2 separate regions of the Homo sapiens genome follow, and region 1 is linked to region 2. The links come from fine-mapping of genetic effects on gene expression. A gene starts in region 2. The other region holds a variant in brackets. All regions are shown on one strand. Distances are between the middles of the regions. Region 1 has its middle 4.4 kb from the start of IFT56. Region 2 holds the start of UBN2 (ubinuclein 2).

What was found. PIP is the estimated chance that this variant, and not a neighbour inherited with it, causes the effect.
Region 1: its variant is the best candidate, but not a certain one, in a credible set for the expression of UBN2 in whole blood (TOPMed, PIP 0.61).

What each region holds. Positions count from the first base shown.
Region 1 is chr7:139,127,883-139,130,800 of GRCh38, reverse strand. No RefSeq gene overlaps it. Among named protein-coding and RNA genes, the nearest start is that of IFT56, 4.4 kb to the left of the region's middle. The variant G/A (reference allele first, on the strand shown) is at 1,622.
Region 2 is chr7:139,229,742-139,232,659 of GRCh38, reverse strand. It overlaps UBN2 (ubinuclein 2), which reads right to left and starts at 1,423. Exons shown (of 18, transcript NM_173569.4): 1 at 708-1,423. The coding sequence starts at 1,175. RefSeq lists silencers at 207-466, 413-632, 843-1,092 and enhancers at 1,263-1,402, 1,483-1,642.

The DNA.
Region 1 (2,918 bases), 100 kb after region 2:
TACATGTGCACAACGTGCAGGTTTGTTACATATATATACATGCGCCATGTTGGTGTGCTGCACCCATTAACTCATCATTTACATTAGGTATATCTCCTAATGCTATCCCTCCCCCCTCCCCCCACCCCATGACAGGCCCCAGTGTGTGATGTTCCCCTTCCTGTGTCCAAGTGTTCTCATTGTGTCATAGCGTTCTCACTGTGTCATAGTGTTCAGTTCCCACCTATGAGTGAGAACATGCAGTGTTTGGTTTTTTGTCCTTGCGATAGTTTGCTGATAATGCTGGTTTCCAGATTCATCCATGTCCCTACAAAGGACATGAACTCATCCTTTTTTATGGCTGCATTGTATTCCATGGTATATATGTGCCACATTTTCTTAAACCAGTCTATCATTGATGGACATTTGGGTTGGTTCCAAGTCTTTGCTATTGTGAATAGTGCCACAATAAACATACGTGTGCATGTGTCTTTATAGTAGCATGATTTATAATCCTTTGGGTACATACCCAGTAATGAGATGGCTGGGTCAAATGGTATTTCTAGTTCTAGATCCTTGAGGAATCGTCACACTGTCTTCCACAATGGTTGAACTAGTTTACAGTCCCACCAACAGTGTAAAAGTGTTCCTATTTCTCCACATCCTCTCCAGCACCTGTTGTTTCCTGACTTTTTAATGATTGCCATTCTAACTGGTGTGAGATGGTATCTCATTGTGGTTTTGATTTGCATTTCTCTGATGGCCAGTGATGATGAGCATTTTTTTCATGTGTGTGTTGGCTGCATAAATGTCTTCTTTTGAGAAGTGTCTGTTCATATCGTTCGCCCACTTTTTGATGGGGTTGTTTGTTTTTTTCTTGTAAATTTGTTTGAGTTCTTTGTAGATTCTGGATATTAGCCCTTTGTCAGATGAGTAGATTGCAAAAATTTTCTCCCATTCTATAGGTTGCCTGTTCACTCTGATGGTAGTTTCTTTTGCTGTGTAGAAGCTCTTTAGTTTAATTAGATCCCATTTGTCAATTTTGGCTTTTGTTGCCATTGCTTTTGGTGTTTTAGACATGAAGTCCTTGCCCATGCCTGTGTCCTGAATGGTATTGCCTAGGTTTTCTTCTAGGGTTTTTATGGTTTTAGGTCTAACATTTAAGTCTTTAATCCATTTTGAATTAATTTTTGTATAAGGTGTAAGGAAGGGATCCAGTTTCAGCTTTCTACATATGGCTAGCCAGTTTTCCCAGCACCATTCATTAAATAGGGAATCCTTTCCCCATTTCTTGTTTTTGTCAGGTTTGTCAAAGATCAGATGGTTGTAGATGTGTGGTATTATTTCTGAGGGCTCTGTTCTGTTCCATTGGTCTATATCTCCGTTTTGGTACCAGTACCATCCTGTTTTGGTTACTGTAGCCTTGTGGTATAGTTTGAAGTCAGGTAGCATGATGCCTCCAGCTTTGTTCTTTTGGCTTAGGATTGTCTTGGCAATGCGGGCCCTTTTTTGGTTCCATATGAACTTTAAAATAGTTTTTTCCAATTCTGTGAAGAAAGTCATTGGTAGCTTGATGGGAATGGCATTGAATCTATAAATTACCTTGGGCAGTATGGCCATTTTCACGATATTGATTCTTCCT[G/A]TCCATGAGCATGGAATGTTCTTCCATTTGTTTGTGTCCTCTTTTATTTCGTTGAGCAGTGGTTTGTAGTTCTCCTTGAAGAGGTCCTTCGCATCCATTATAAGTTGGATTCCTAGGTATTTAATTCTCTTTGAAGCAATTGTGAATGGGAGTTCACTCATGATTTGGCTCTCTGTCTGCTATTGGTGTATAAGAATGCTTGTGATTTTTGCACATTGATTTTGTGTCCTGAGACTTTTCTGAAGTTGCTTATCAGCTTAAGGAGATTTTGGGTTGAGATGATGGGGTTTTCTAAATATACAATCATGTCATCTGCAAACAGGGACAATTTGTGTCTGTCTAATCTTTAGCTTTACTTTCTGATAGTCACATGTGAGTTAGTTGATATAAATCAGAATAACCAGGGCCATAAGCTCAGATATTTAATTCAAATTCCCTAGCAAAACAAATAGGATCCTGGTTAAGGTCGGGGAATTATTTAACTATGCCTTTAAGTTCTACCTTAGACCATGGTTGATAAACTAAAGCAGGTTTCCCTCTACCAGATGCTGGATGTTCATTAAATGAAGCCAAAAATGTGGGAGCAGGTGGAAGGGGAGGAGAGGGAAGAGAAGGTCAGTCTGGGCAAGGTAGTTGTGATAAGGAGGGATAGAGAGAAGGGGGAGCAGAAGGAGGAGAAGCAGCAGTTTCAGCAGCTTTTCTGAATAAAAGTTTTAGAGGCTTTTCATTCTCTTTCTATAGGAAAAGAACTCTGTCACAGCCTCTTTTGCATGCTTCTGGGTAGCATTGGAAATAACTCTCCAAATTATATTGTTTAATTCTGGAGCTGGCTTTTTCTAATTGTGCATGTGAGCAAACTAACTTAGGCATTTCACAAGTACCCTACTTTGGCCACTGTAATTCAGGGTCTTCTTGGGTCAAGTAAGACCATTTTTCCCAATACTGACAGGAGGTAGCAGGTGCGATGGCTCACACCTGTAATCTCAGCACTTTGGCAGGTTGAAGCAGGAGGATCACTTGAGCTCAGGAGTTTGAGATGAGCCTGGATGATGTAGTGAGACTGTCTCTATAAAAACTGAAAAAATTAGCCCAGCATGGGGGTGTGCCTGTGGTGCCAGCTACTCGGGAGGCTGAGGTGGGAGGATTGTTTGAGCCCCGGAGGTGGAGGTTGCAGTAAGCCGAGATCGTACTACTGCACTCCATCCTGGATGACAGAGTGAGACCCTGCCTCATAAAACATACAGACACACATACACACATATTTATGTATGTAGGTTGTTAGGTTGTGTGTATATAT
Region 2 (2,918 bases):
CCCATTCAATTACAATATGAACGAACTCCACAAAAAAGGAAAGCTAAAAAGGTTTTCCAATACCAACACGAGAGAAAAATTAGTAACCAGATTAACTAACCCACTTCTCCATTCCTAAAGTGGGATCCTTAGTCTCTGAAAACCTTTAATTATTCTTAAATTCCCTTCGATTAAGAAAAATATCACAGGCACGCAAGCACACCTCAGCAGCCACGGCGCCCAGCAAAACAAACAGTGATGAGGATGAGGATGATACGAGAGGGGTTACACAATCTCTGCTTCAGACTGGGGGGCGTGTCCCCCAAGGTTTTCTCTTCCTTTCTACTGGAACGACAGCTGTAGCGCCACAGGGAGAACCCAGCCACACGGCCTGCAGGGCCCCAGGATTTTGTGTGGGGAGCAGAAAGGAAAGAAGGAAAATCTGAGGTTCCGAAAGGTGCACAAGAAAACGAGCTCGGCGCGGCGTTGGGAGCGAGTGCCGGGGGTTTGGGGATTCGGCGCAGCCGGGTGAGAGCCTCGGCCACCCTGGGGAGTGGAGAAAGCAGCGCTCACCGCCCCGTCCACCCGCTCGGCCCCGGCCCCCCGCACCCCACCCTCGGGGCGACCCGGACGCGCTCGGTGGGCGTCCCAAGGTGCAAACCAGCTGGGGAAGGCGGCGGGTCCTGAGGCTCCCGGGGTCTGGGGCAGGAGGGAAGAATCTTCTGTACCCGTTGTTCTCCGCACAGCAGCAGCTCCGGGTAACTGAACTCCACGCAGCTCTCGTCGGTGGGGTCCTTAAGCACCAGCTCCAGGCGCACCGTCTCCCTCGGCGGCCGCGGCGGCTGCTCAGCCCGGGAAGCCGACTCCCGCGGCGGGGGCGGCTGCAAGGGCAGCGGCGGGAACGGCGGCGGCGGCTCGGGCCGCGGGGGCTCCCGCTGCAGCGACATGGGCGGCTCGGCGCGGCTGACCTCGCGCTGGGGGAGCGGCTTCTCCCGCGACGGGGGCTGCGCGTCCGAGCGGGGGGCAGGCTCCCGCGGGGCCGGCGGCTCCGCCCGGGCCGGCTCGCGGTACGGCTGCGGCTCCAGCCGGGGGGGCTCGCGGGGGTACTCGGGCTCACGCTCGGGCCCCGGGTACTCGGCCTCGCGCCGCCGCACCGGTGACAAGCTAATGAACGCTACTCTGCGCGGCTCCGCCATCCCCACTGTTCTGGCCCTCCGCTTTTGCTCGAGCCGGCGCTCGCTTCTACGGCGCGCTGCGTGCCTGCCCGCCCTTCCTCTTGCTCTCTGTCGCTTTTCTTCCCTCCACCACCCTCAGCCGTCTCCGCCGGCGCCACGGTGAGTGCGGACCGTGTCCCCTTCCCCGCTACTACGTTCTGATGGGCTTCACCGCCATCGCCAGGGTCGCCGCGGCCGCCATGTTGGATCCCCCACATAAATAGAAGCAGGCCGCTGAGCGGGCGCATGCGCACAGAGGAGACGCTCGCGTCCACTGTCGTGGCTGTTGCTCAGTTTTCCTCTTTTCCTCCCAACAGTCTGGAGTCCAGACAGGTCGGCGGAAGTGACGACATGGCTCGGCCTGTTTCCGTGGAAACGGAGACGCCGTCTGCACCCTTCCTCAAAGGGAGGGTTCTGGGGTTTCCCGAGCAGTTTACTATTCGCACCCGGAAACCAGAGGCGCTCCAGGAGCTTCCCGGGGCTAGCATCGGGATGGGACTGAGACCGACCTAGCCATTGGCGCCGGGTCTCCCGTGCTGGGTTCAAGGGAATTGGGGTTGTTAGCTGATTATTCAAGGCGGACTCTGGGCAAGGGTAGAGAGACGCGCCAGCCGTTGTGCCTGCCCGCCCTGTGTCCCCGTAGCCTTAAGTATCGAGGGAAAAAAGGAAGTGCCCAGCTTCAGCCAGACTAGCCCCAGCGGCTTCCCTCCCGAAAGCGCAGGCCTCCCCTTCCTCGACCTACTCCGGTTTCCCTCGCCCGGCCGCAGTGGGCGTTGCGTGGGGCAGGGTCATTAAATGTTCAATAACGCTTTGCAGTTGGAAAATTAACAAGCAGATGAGGAGTTCTGGGCTCATTCAGAAGGCCTAAACTGCTGAAATCATAGAAAACTTCTTAAGAGGGTTTAGTGGTATTTCAGGAAACGTACTGTTTATGAGAATGCTAAAGGACCCATTTCAGGATGGGGAAGGAATTGATTGGGCACGCCCCATAGGCTCACTTGTAATTAATTAATTGGAAGTCGGGTTTAAAAGGATAAGAATTACTGGCCATTTTAATCCATTGAATAAAAAGTAAATTTGAGGGCTCGCCCTTCACATCCTGAAGGGAATCCAAGCCTTCTGTTAATTGCATTAACTATTGAAAGCTCTTTTATTAAGTCAGTGTGACGTCATTGACAAATTCTGAGAGGGTTCCGTTTTTTCCTCTCCTGTTATTACTTTCCCTACTTGGACGAAGATGGTGATGAAATCTATGATTCCAAAGGTCTCTCCCAGCTCTAAAACCCTATCTTTTCTACTCGGCGCCATGTTTTACCTACATTATCTCCTTCCCTATTGCTCCTTTTCTGATTCTGAATTCGGGTCTCATTTTTAGATTGCCTTAGTGATACTTAAATGACCTTTCTGCCTTCAGTCTCTGTTCCCACCAGTCTTGAGACGGGGTCATATTAATGTCTCTAAAAGAGTTTTTATTATATCGTTCTCTGTTCTGGCTGCAACTTACCTACAAACTGAGTTCTATGTATGTATACTCATATTCAATATCCTCCACAATTTAGCTCAGAGACTGCAAACTGGTGGTCTGTGGGCCAAATCCTTCTACAGGTGTGTTACTTATCCAACATTATCTTCTAACTTCTCACCCACTGAGTTTTCCAACTTTTTGATCCATAACCCACAGTAAGACATTTTACACTGTAACCTAGAATATACACCCATATATAC